Homo sapiens: one gene and its partners. The protein of the gene in region 2 interacts with the protein of the main gene of each other region in a pairwise test. Each region holds a gene or a part of one and is shown on either strand. Other genes may lie near its edges. The genes, in order: EXOSC10, SLC71A2 and TMEM119.

The links.
Region 1: the proteins of SLC71A2 (region 2) and EXOSC10 interact in a two-hybrid assay, tested with the Homo sapiens proteins (one large-scale study listed by IntAct).
Region 3: the proteins of SLC71A2 (region 2) and TMEM119 interact in a two-hybrid assay, tested with the Homo sapiens proteins (one large-scale study listed by BioGRID).

What each region holds. Positions count from the first base shown.
Region 1 is NC_000001.11:11,079,337-11,082,988, reverse strand, and holds part of EXOSC10 (exosome complex component 10), read left to right. Parts: intron 1-110; coding exon 111-301; intron 302-330; exon of another isoform or gene 331-455; intron 456-1,750; coding exon 1,751-1,907; intron 1,908-2,076; coding exon 2,077-2,225; intron 2,226-2,439; coding exon 2,440-2,490; intron 2,491-3,166; coding exon 3,167-3,278; intron 3,279-3,652. UniProt on the Homo sapiens protein: Catalytic component of the RNA exosome complex which has 3'->5' exoribonuclease activity and participates in a multitude of cellular RNA processing and degradation events.
Region 2 is NC_000009.12:94,377,474-94,381,125, forward strand, and holds part of SLC71A2 (hippocampus abundant transcript-like protein 1), read left to right. Parts: intron 1-3,652.
Region 3 is NC_000012.12:108,589,321-108,592,339, reverse strand, and holds the end of TMEM119 (transmembrane protein 119 precursor), read left to right. Parts: coding exon 1-808; 3' UTR 809-2,489; downstream 2,490-3,019. UniProt on the Homo sapiens protein: Plays an important role in bone formation and normal bone mineralization. Promotes the differentiation of myoblasts into osteoblasts.

The DNA of each region.
Region 1 (3,652 bases), on a different chromosome or scaffold from region 2:
GCGGAGACTACCTTCTAATTTCAGTGTTCTAATAAACTAGAGGCAGAGTTAATTTCTGAGCATGAGTGGCCTGCTACCAGTGTACTGCATGACTTTGGTTCTGTTTTCAGGTCTTTCATGGTGCTGATTCAGACATAGAATGGCTACAGAAAGACTTTGGGTTGTATGTAGTAAACATGTTTGATACTCATCAGGCAGCACGCCTTCTTAACCTGGGCAGGCACTCACTCGATCATCTCCTGAAACTCTACTGCAACGTGGACTCAAACAAGCAATATCAGCTGGCTGATTGGAGAATACGGTCAGTTTGCTCTTACTGAGGAAATGTGGGTGGCAGAAGAAAGTGATTATTCATTAACCTGTCGTCCAGAGAGACCTGGGTTTGAGCCCTACCACGCTCATTGAGATGAATGGCATCAGGCTTTTCGCCAGGCATCTTCAGCAGCGTAAAAGTGGTAGGAAATTTTTTAATGCTAAGGTGGACTTTATGATGGGCTGATGCAGTTACACTGTGTTCCATGGAAATAGTGGTTGAAAAAGAGGTGCCGCACCAGTATTTGCCCATGCTGGTCTTTTGTTTGAAACTGGGATCTTTCTACCAGATGATTTTGTGTGTGTGTAAGATCTTCTGTAGGGATGATTGTGTGTGTGTGTGTGTGTGCAAGATGACCTTCCATAGGTGGGAAAGAATTCTAAGGGACACTGTTGTTTAGCTTTACACTGAGCGTTTTTTTGTGGCATAAGGTAGCAGTTTTGCCCCACTTCCTGCAGGCCTTGCTCAGCTTGGTCGTTTTCCGCTTGGTTGCTACCTCTCCGAGGTTGCACCTGTCATAGGAAGGTGCTACTGAGCTTTTTCAGGAATTCCACATGCCAGAATGCCAGAATTTCTTTTTTTCTTTTTTTTTTTTTGAGATGCAGTTTCACTGTTGCCCAGGCTGGAGTGCAATGGCGCGATCTCGGCTCACCACAACCTCTGCCTCCCGGGTTCAAGCAATTCTCCTGCCTCAGCCTCCTGAGTAGCTAGGATTACAGGCGTGCACCACCACGCCCAGCTAATTTTGTATTTCCAGTAGAGACGAGGTTTCTCCATGTTGGTCAGACTGGTCTCAAACTCCTGACCTCAGGTGATCCTCCCGCCTCCGCCTCCCAAAGTGCTGGGATTACAGGCGTGAGCCACCGCGCCTGGCCCAGAATGCCAGAATTTCTAAATATAAAAGTAAAATTACATTTGGACTGATAAAATCCAAATAAAAGATAAAAATTGATAAAATCTAAAAACCACTCCCTGTTACGGAGCCCTTACCCTGTGCCAAGCTCTGGGCTAAGTGCTTCAAGGATGTGGTCCTGTGTAGTCCTCACAACAGCCTATGAAGTACCTGGTTCCCATTTCACAAGTTAGGTGGGTCAGCCCAAAGAGGTTAAGGAACTTGTCCAAGGACAGACATCTGGAGCTGAGATTTGAACTCAGGACACCAGTGGCCCCTTTTCTACTGCCTCTTGTGTGTGTCCAGAGTAGCTGACAGTGCCCTTATTTTAACCACCGCATTACCCTGCCTCCAATTCTACCCAGCTGTTAAAATAATGGTTTATCATGTTAAAATGCAGGAAATGTTGGCATAACTGCAGTATTGACTATGAAAGGATCTTTCATATTGGAAGGGTCTAAGGAAGTCCCAGCACCCAAGGAATAGACAAATTGAATTGCTGTCCTTGGGGGCAATCAGTAAAACATTGTCCTCTGCAATTCCAGCCCTCTGCCCGAGGAGATGCTCAGCTACGCCCGGGATGACACCCATTACCTGCTATATATCTATGACAAAATGAGGCTGGAGATGTGGGAGCGCGGCAACGGGCAGCCGGTGCAGCTGCAGGTGGTGTGGCAACGGAGCAGGGACATCTGCCTCAAGGTACACCTCAGCCGCAGTCACACAGACCGCGACACTTGGGCTCTGTGTCTGGCCAGGTTCTAGTTCTTAGGTTTGCTCCTTACATTCATGAAAAGAGCCAAACATTTTCCAGAGCCCAGGGCACAATTTTGATTCCCGTTGATTTTGAATGTTCTCTAATACTTTGTAGAAATTCATCAAACCTATCTTCACGGATGAGTCCTACCTTGAACTCTATAGGAAGCAGAAGAAGCACCTTAACACACAGCAGTTGACAGCCTTTCAGCTGCTGTTTGCCTGGAGGGATAAAACAGCTCGCAGGGAAGATGAAAGTTACGGGTAAGGGATTAGAGGTTCTTTTAATACTTGTTTCCAGACTGAGGAGATCTAATAACAAGTAAATAATGGGCTTTTTTCTTTTGCTATGAAAGCTGGTTATTTCCCCTATGTGACAGCATCTAATGGAACTTACTGGCTGAATGTAATGTGTCCCCACCGTGTGTGTGTGTGTGTGTGTGTGTGTGTGTGTGTGTGTGTGTTTTTTTTTTTCCAGATATGTACTGCCAAACCACATGATGCTGAAAATAGCTGAAGAACTGCCTAAGTGAGTTTCAAATCTGATTAATATGTTCTGACTTTCTCAGTAGATCTGATGTTCTTCAAAATCAAGCTTTTCTGGTTGCTATTACCCAAGGCTGCTTACTCAGAGATTAATGCTCCAAGCTTGGAAGGTAGCAAGTTGAAGGAATATAGAATTTCTGCCCTCAGGCTGCCATTTAAGCACTAAAACTTCTGAACTGGAATCATTTCAATGATTATGCCTTAGTTTGAGTTTATTTTAAGTCTCTGAGCCTTATAGCATCTACTTGCAAGGGAAGAAAATGTCCCAGATTCTGTCATCTGTACTTTCTTCCAAATTAAAGCAGCTCATGATCTTAAACGTTTTGTGATCTTGATTGAAGTATAAGCAAGAATGAAAATCCACAGCCCGTTGGTTGCCCCCTGCGGAATTGAGAATCCACAGTGCTATGGCACTTACTTTCAGCTCTCCCTGATTGTGGGAGTCAGGCTCCAAGAGGGATCCACTTAAAGCTTGGTGTCGCAAAGAACACATGGAGAAGTTGGCCTAGGCTGGCCTGACATCAGTGTTTCCTTAGTCACCTACCTGTAGCTTCAGCTTAGGTGGCAGCCTGGCTTTACCCAGTCATTATTCTTATCTGGAAGCCTTTAAGGGCTGCGTTTCTGAGTGACAAGTTGAGTGTGTTCTTACTTGTCTTCAGGGAACCTCAGGGCATCATAGCTTGCTGCAACCCAGTACCGCCCCTTGTGCGGCAGCAGATCAACGAAATGCACCTTTTAATCCAGCAGGCCCGAGAGATGCCCCTGCTCAAGGTAAGAAGCTTTTCTGCGGCTGGGCACAGTGGCTCACGCCTATAATCTCAGCACTTTGGGAGGCTGAGGTGGCTGGATCATTTCAGGTCAGGAGTTCGAGACCAGCCTGGCCAACATGGTGAAACCCCGTCTCTACTAAAAATACAAAAAATTAGCCAGGCGTGTGGTGCACGCCTGTAATCCCAGCTACTCCGGAGGCTGAGGCAGGAGAATTGCTTGAATCCGGGAGGCGGAGGTTGCAGTGAGCCGAGATCGCGCCACTGCACTCTAGCCTGGGAGGCAGAGCGAGACTCCGTCTCAAAAAAAAAAAAAAAGATTTTCTACTGAAGGGTCCCAACTTAGCAAGCCTGTTTTTTTTTTGTTTGTTTGTTTTT
Region 2 (3,652 bases):
GTCCTCTCACCTCAGCCTCCTGAGTAGCTGGGACAACAGATATGTGCCACCATGCCTGGCTTTTTTTTTTTTTTTTTTTTAATTTATTTTTTGTAGAGATGAAGTCTTCCTGTTTCCCAAGCTGGTCTCAAACTCCTGGGCTCAAATGATCCTCCTGTCTCAGCCTCCCAGTGCTGGGATTATAGGTTAGAGCCATGATGCTTGGCCTGACAACTTTTTTCTACCTTATTTGGCAAAGAGATATATTGACCAGAAAAAGATACTGGCAGAGAGATGTCATAATCTGAAAAATAAAAGAGAATCAAGTATTTACTCCAAGAGATCATTTCCTTCTAGAAAAGGGAGGTGTGTCGCCGGGCACGGTGGCTCACACCTGTAATCCCAGCACTTTGGGAGGCTGACGTGGGCGGATCACAAGGTCAAGAGATCAAGACCATCCTGGCCAACATGGTGAAATCCTGTCTCTATAAAAATATAAAAGTTAGCTGGGCATGGTGGCAGGCGCCTGTAGTCCCAGCTACTCAGGAGGCTGAGGCAGGAGAATCGCTTGAACCTGGGAGGCGGAGGTTGCAGTGAGCTGAGATCGTGCCACTGCACTCCAGCCTGGCGACAGACTGCACTCCAGCCTGGCGACAGAGCGAGACTCCATTTCCAAAAAAAAAAAAAGGAGGTGTATGTTAGCTGTTTGCGTTGCTGTAAAGGAATACCTGAGAATACCTGAGACTGGGGAATTTATCAAGAAAAGTGGTTCTTTAGGCTGTACAGGAAGCTTAGCACCAGCATCTGTTTCTGGTGAGGGCCTCAGAAAGCTTGCAATCAGGACAGAAGGCGAAGGGGAAGCAGCTTATCACGTGTTGGGGAGGGAGCAAGAGAGAGAGGGGAGGAGGTGCCAGGCTCCTTTTAGCAATGAGATCTTGGCCGCGTGCGGTGGATCACTTAAGGTCAGCAGTTGGAGACCAGCGTGGCCAACATAGTGAAACCCCATCTCTACTAAAAATACAAAAATTAGCCGGGTGTGATGGTGCATACCTGTAGTCCTAGCTACCTGGGAGGCTGAGACAGGAGAATTGTTTGAAACTGGGAGGCGCCACTGCACTCCACCCTGGGTGACAGAGTGAGACTCTGTCTCAAAAACAAACAATAAACAAAACCAATCAGATCTTGTGGTAACTAATGGAGCGAGGACTCACTCATTACTGTGAGAAGGACACCAAACAATTGAGAAGAGATCAGCCCCCATGACCCAAACAGCTGCCACTAGACCCCACCTCCAACACTGGGGGTCACATTTCAACATGAGATTTGGAGGAGACAGATATCCAAATGCTATCTGCCTTAAAAACAAATTGGATAGTTTGGTTTTCTATTCTGTGGAAGAATTTGTGTAAGATTGGTAATACAGTTCTAGAACTTTATAGTTCTTGGCCTTTTGGAGATTAATTCTAGAACAGCGTAGGTTTTCTGTTTGATTTTTAGTTCTGTCAGTTTCAGTAAGTTGTGTTTTGTTGGGAATTTGCCCATTTTATCTAAAATGTCAAATTAGTTGGCATAAAGCTGTGAATAATGACCTCGTAGGCTCTTTTCACCTTCTGTAGGGATTCTTGGTGTGCATTTCCTTTTTTTTTTTTTTGAGACGGAGTTTCACTGTTGTTGCCCAGGCTGGAGTGCAATGGTGTGATCTTGGCTCACTACAGCCTCTGCCTGCCGGGTTCAAGCGATTCTCCTGCCTCAGCCTCCCATGTAGCTGGGATTACAGGCTTGTGCCACCATGCCCGGATAATTTTGTATTTTTAGTAGAGATGGGGTTGCACCATGTTGGCCAGGCTGGTCTTGAACTCCTGACCTCAGGCGATCCACCTGCCTTGGCCTCCCAAAGTGCTGGAATTACAGGCGTGAGCCACTGCGCCTGGCCCTTTTTTTTTTTTTTTTTAAGAGGTGAGGCCTCACTCTGTCATCCAGGCTGGAGTGCGGTGGCGCACAATCATAGCTTGCTGTAACCTTAAACTCCTGGGTTCAAATGATCCTCCTGCCTCAGCCTCCCTAGTAGCAAGGACTATAGGCACGTGGCACTATGCCTGGCTAGTTTTTAAATTTTTTTGTAGAGATTGGGTCTCACTGTGTTGTCCAGGCTTGTCTTGAACTCCTGGCCTCAAGTAATCCTCCAGCCTCAGCCTCTCAGAGTGCTGGGATTATAGGCATGAGCCACCATGCCTGGCTGGTACTCTGCATTGATAACTTGTGCTTTGTCTTTCAAAAAATATTTAATTTTGTAGGATCTTCTGGATAAATATTCACAAATATTGCACGTGTTGATAATTTTATATCTTATTTTGATGTTAAATGAACTAGAATATCCAGGAAAGTATTCAATGGTAATGGTAAAAGTGCATACAACCTCCTCTACGTAACAGGAATACATTAATTTTTTCTTACTGTTAGGTATCCTTTTGGCTGTATACACGTAAACATGCTTTATTACCCTATGGAAGCATTTTTGAAATTTCTCAGTTTCAGCTGGACGCGGTGGCTTACGCCTATAATCCCAGCACTTTTGGAGGCTGAGGCAGGCGGATCACGAGGTCAGGAGATTGAGACCATCCTGGCTGACGCGGTGAAACCCTGTCTCTACTAAAAATACAAAAAATTAGCCAGGCGTGGTGGTGGGCGCCTGTAGTCCCAGCTACTTGGGAGGCTGAGGCAGGAGAATGGCGTGAATCTGGGAGGTGGACCACGCTTGCAGTGAGCAGAGATCGTGCCACTGCACTCCAGCCTGGGCGACAGAGCGAGACTCTTTCTCAAAAAAAAAAAAGAAATTTCTCAGTTTCTTACATGTGTTCTCTCTTCCCCTTTTCCTCTTCCCTTCCTCCAGTTCAGCATGTCATAGAACTTTCACAAGTGGTTATGAAATCTTAGATATGCTATGGAGAAAGAGGTTATGGCATAGCAAGAGCATTGTTCTGTGAGAATTGGAGAGAAATCTATTCTTAATGTGTATTTATTTATTTATTTTTGAGACAAGAGTCTTACTGTTTCATCCAGGCTGGAGTGCAGTGGTGTGATTATGGCTCAGTGCACCCGGGAACTCCAGGGCTCAAGTGATCTTCCTGCCTCAGCCTCCTGGTAGCTGGGACTACACGTACGTCCCATCATGCCTGGCTAATTTTTAAATTTTTATTTGTAGAGATGTGCTCTTGCTTTGTTGTCCAGGCTGGTCTCGAACTCCTGGCTTCAAAGAATCCTCCTGCCTTGGCCTCCCAAAGCATTGGGATTGCAGGTGTGAGCCACTGTGCCCAGCATTAGTCTGACTTTTTTATAGTTAGCTTTGTATTTGCTTGTCTTTTTTAAACAACCTTATTCAGTTTAATTGACATAAAATAAACTGTGTGTTTGGAGTGCACAGTTTTGTGTTGTGACATATCTATACACCTGTGAAACCATTATCATAATCAAGATAGTAAACATATTCATCACCCTCAAATGTTTCTTTTTACCTCCCTCTACACCTCCATTTCCAGGCGATAATTTATCTACTCTGTCACTATATATTGGCTTGAATTTTCTTCCCCCTTTTTTTTTTTTTGAGATGGAGTTTCACTCTTGTTGCCCAGGCTGGAGTGCAATGGCGTGATAACGGCTCACCACAATCTCCGCC
Region 3 (3,019 bases), on a different chromosome or scaffold from region 2:
GCTCCTGGGGTCTGTGCCTGCTACCGACGCCCGCTCTGTGCCCCTGAAGGCCACGTTCCTGGAGGATGTGGCGGGTAGTGGGGAGGCCGAGGGCTCGTCGGCCTCCTCCCCGAGCCTCCCGCCACCCTGGACCCCGGCCCTCAGCCCCACATCGATGGGGCCCCAGCCCATAACCCTGGGGGGCCCATCACCCCCCACCAACTTCCTGGATGGGATAGTGGACTTCTTCCGCCAGTACGTGATGCTGATTGCTGTGGTGGGCTCCCTGGCCTTTCTGCTGATGTTCATCGTCTGTGCCGCGGTCATCACCCGGCAGAAGCAGAAGGCCTCGGCCTATTACCCATCGTCCTTCCCCAAGAAGAAGTACGTGGACCAGAGTGACCGGGCCGGGGGCCCCCGGGCCTTCAGTGAGGTCCCCGACAGAGCCCCCGACAGCAGGCCCGAGGAAGCCCTGGATTCCTCCCGGCAGCTCCAGGCCGACATCTTGGCCGCCACCCAGAACCTCAAGTCCCCCACCAGGGCTGCACTGGGCGGTGGGGACGGAGCCAGGATGGTGGAGGGCAGGGGCGCAGAGGAAGAGGAGAAGGGCAGCCAGGAGGGGGACCAGGAAGTCCAGGGACATGGGGTCCCAGTGGAGACACCAGAGGCGCAGGAGGAGCCGTGCTCAGGGGTCCTTGAGGGGGCTGTGGTGGCCGGTGAGGGCCAAGGGGAGCTGGAAGGGTCTCTCTTGTTAGCCCAGGAAGCCCAGGGACCAGTGGGTCCCCCCGAAAGCCCCTGTGCTTGCAGCAGTGTCCACCCCAGTGTCTAACAGTCCTCCCGGGCTGCCAGCCCTGACTGTCGGGCCCCCAAGTGGTCACCTCCCCGTGTATGAAAAGGCCTTCAGCCCTGACTGCTTCCTGACACTCCCTCCTTGGCCTCCCTGTGGTGCCAATCCCAGCATGTGCTGATTCTACAGCAGGCAGAAATGCTGGTCCCCGGTGCCCCGGAGGAATCTTACCAAGTGCCATCATCCTTCACCTCAGCAGCCCCAAAGGGCTACATCCTACAGCACAGCTCCCCTGACAAAGTGAGGGAGGGCACGTGTCCCTGTGACAGCCAGGATAAAACATCCCTCAAGGCTGGGTGTGGAGGCTCACACCTGTAATCTCAGCATTTTGGGAGGCCAAGTGCGGACATCACTTGAGACCAGGAGTTCCAAACCAGCCCTGGCAACATTGTGAGACCCATCTCTATAAAAACAAAAAACAGTCCACTAAATCAGCCACATTAATTGGGAATCATATGTCACAGGTCATTTGTGGGGCAAACATCACTGCTTTTCCATCAAGGGAGCAAAGAATAAGTGGGAGTTTTGGAAGAGTTTGGATGAGAGACGCCAAGGTGCCCAGCGTTCGTAAGGCAACATGCAGCCTGGCGTGAAGCAGTATTTTGAAACTGCAAATGGTTCCCTTCTTGTGTCCTTTCAATGCTGAATATTTTAGTGTCATTCTGCCTGTGCTCAGAGCTCCAGCAGCAGAAGTGTGTGTGGTTAATTAGGACACTTCTGTGAGAGGACCCCTGCACACATTACGACAGGTCCCTAAATGAGCATTTCCCAAACTAGGTTCCCCGAGGCACTCTACGGAAACAAGATTTTTTTTTTTGAGACGGAGTCTCGGTCTGTCACCCAGGCTGGAGTGCAGTGGTGCAATCTTGGTGCAATCTTGGCTCAGTGCAATCCGCCTCCCAGGTTCAAGCGATTCTCCCGCCTCAGTAGCTGGGATTACAGGTGCCCACCACTGCGCCCAGCTAAATTTTGTATTTTTAGTAGAGATGGGGCTTCACCATGTTGGCCAGGCTGGTCTGGAACTCCTGACCTTCAGGTGATCCACCTGCCTCTGCCTCCCAAAGTGCTGGGATTACAGGCGTGAGCCACCGTGCCCGGCCCAAACTACTTTTTAAAACAGCTACAGGGTAAAATCCTGCAGCACCCACTCTGGAAAATACTGCTCTTAATTTTCCTGAAGGTGGCCCCCTGTTTCTAGTTGGTCCAGGATTAGGGATGTGGGGTATAGGGCATTTAAATCCTCTCAAGCGCTCTCCAAGCACCCCCGGCCTGGGGGTGAGTTTCTCATCCCGCTACTGCTGCTGGGATCAGGTTGAATGAATGGAACTCTTCCTGTCTGGCCTCCAAAGCAGCCTAGAAGCTGAGGGGCTGTGTTTGAGGGGACCTCCACCCTGGGGAAGTCCGAGGGGCTGGGGAAGGGTTTCTGACGCCCAGCCTGGAGCAGGGGGGCCCTGGCCACCCCCTGTTGCTCACACATTGTCTGGCAGCCTGTGTCCACAATATTCGTCAGTCCTCGACAGGGAGCCTGGGCTCCGTCCTGCTTTAGGGAGGCTCTGGCAGGAGGTCCTCTCCCCCATCCCTCCATCTGGGGCTCCCCCAACCTCTGCACAGCTCTCCAGGTGCTGAGATATAATGCACCAGCACAATAAACCTTTATTCCGGCCTGAAGTCTCACCAGTTTTCTGGGGGGTGGGGGAAATGAGCCTGCTGGGGAGGGGCTCTTGCATGGGGATGGGGACAACTTTCTGGGGAGACACATCAGCCCAGTCCTGGAGGGTGAAGGGACAGATTGATGTGGGAAACAAAGGAAAGACCGGTGCTCCCGAGGAATGGGCTGGAACTCATGTCCCCAGGGGTGGAGCACCAGCTCTGGACTTGTGGCCACGCAGACCCAGGTTCCATGCCCAGCTCTGCCACTGTGGCCATGGGAGAGTCACTCACCTCTCTGTTTCCCCTGCAGGTGGTTGAGGACTGGGACGGGTCTCATGGACAATGCCCCCCTCACTGCACCCTTGGCCGGGATCGGGAGTAGGAGGCAGCCCTGGCCCTGCAGTCGGCCTCTGCCTTCTGTCTCCCCACCCACAAAACTCCTCTTGGTCTTTGATGGCAAGTTCCTGCAGCGACTTCTCCCCCGCACCCTGGGCCTCAGGAGCTGCCAGCTGGAATCCAGATGTGGCTGGGGCTGGGAGCATG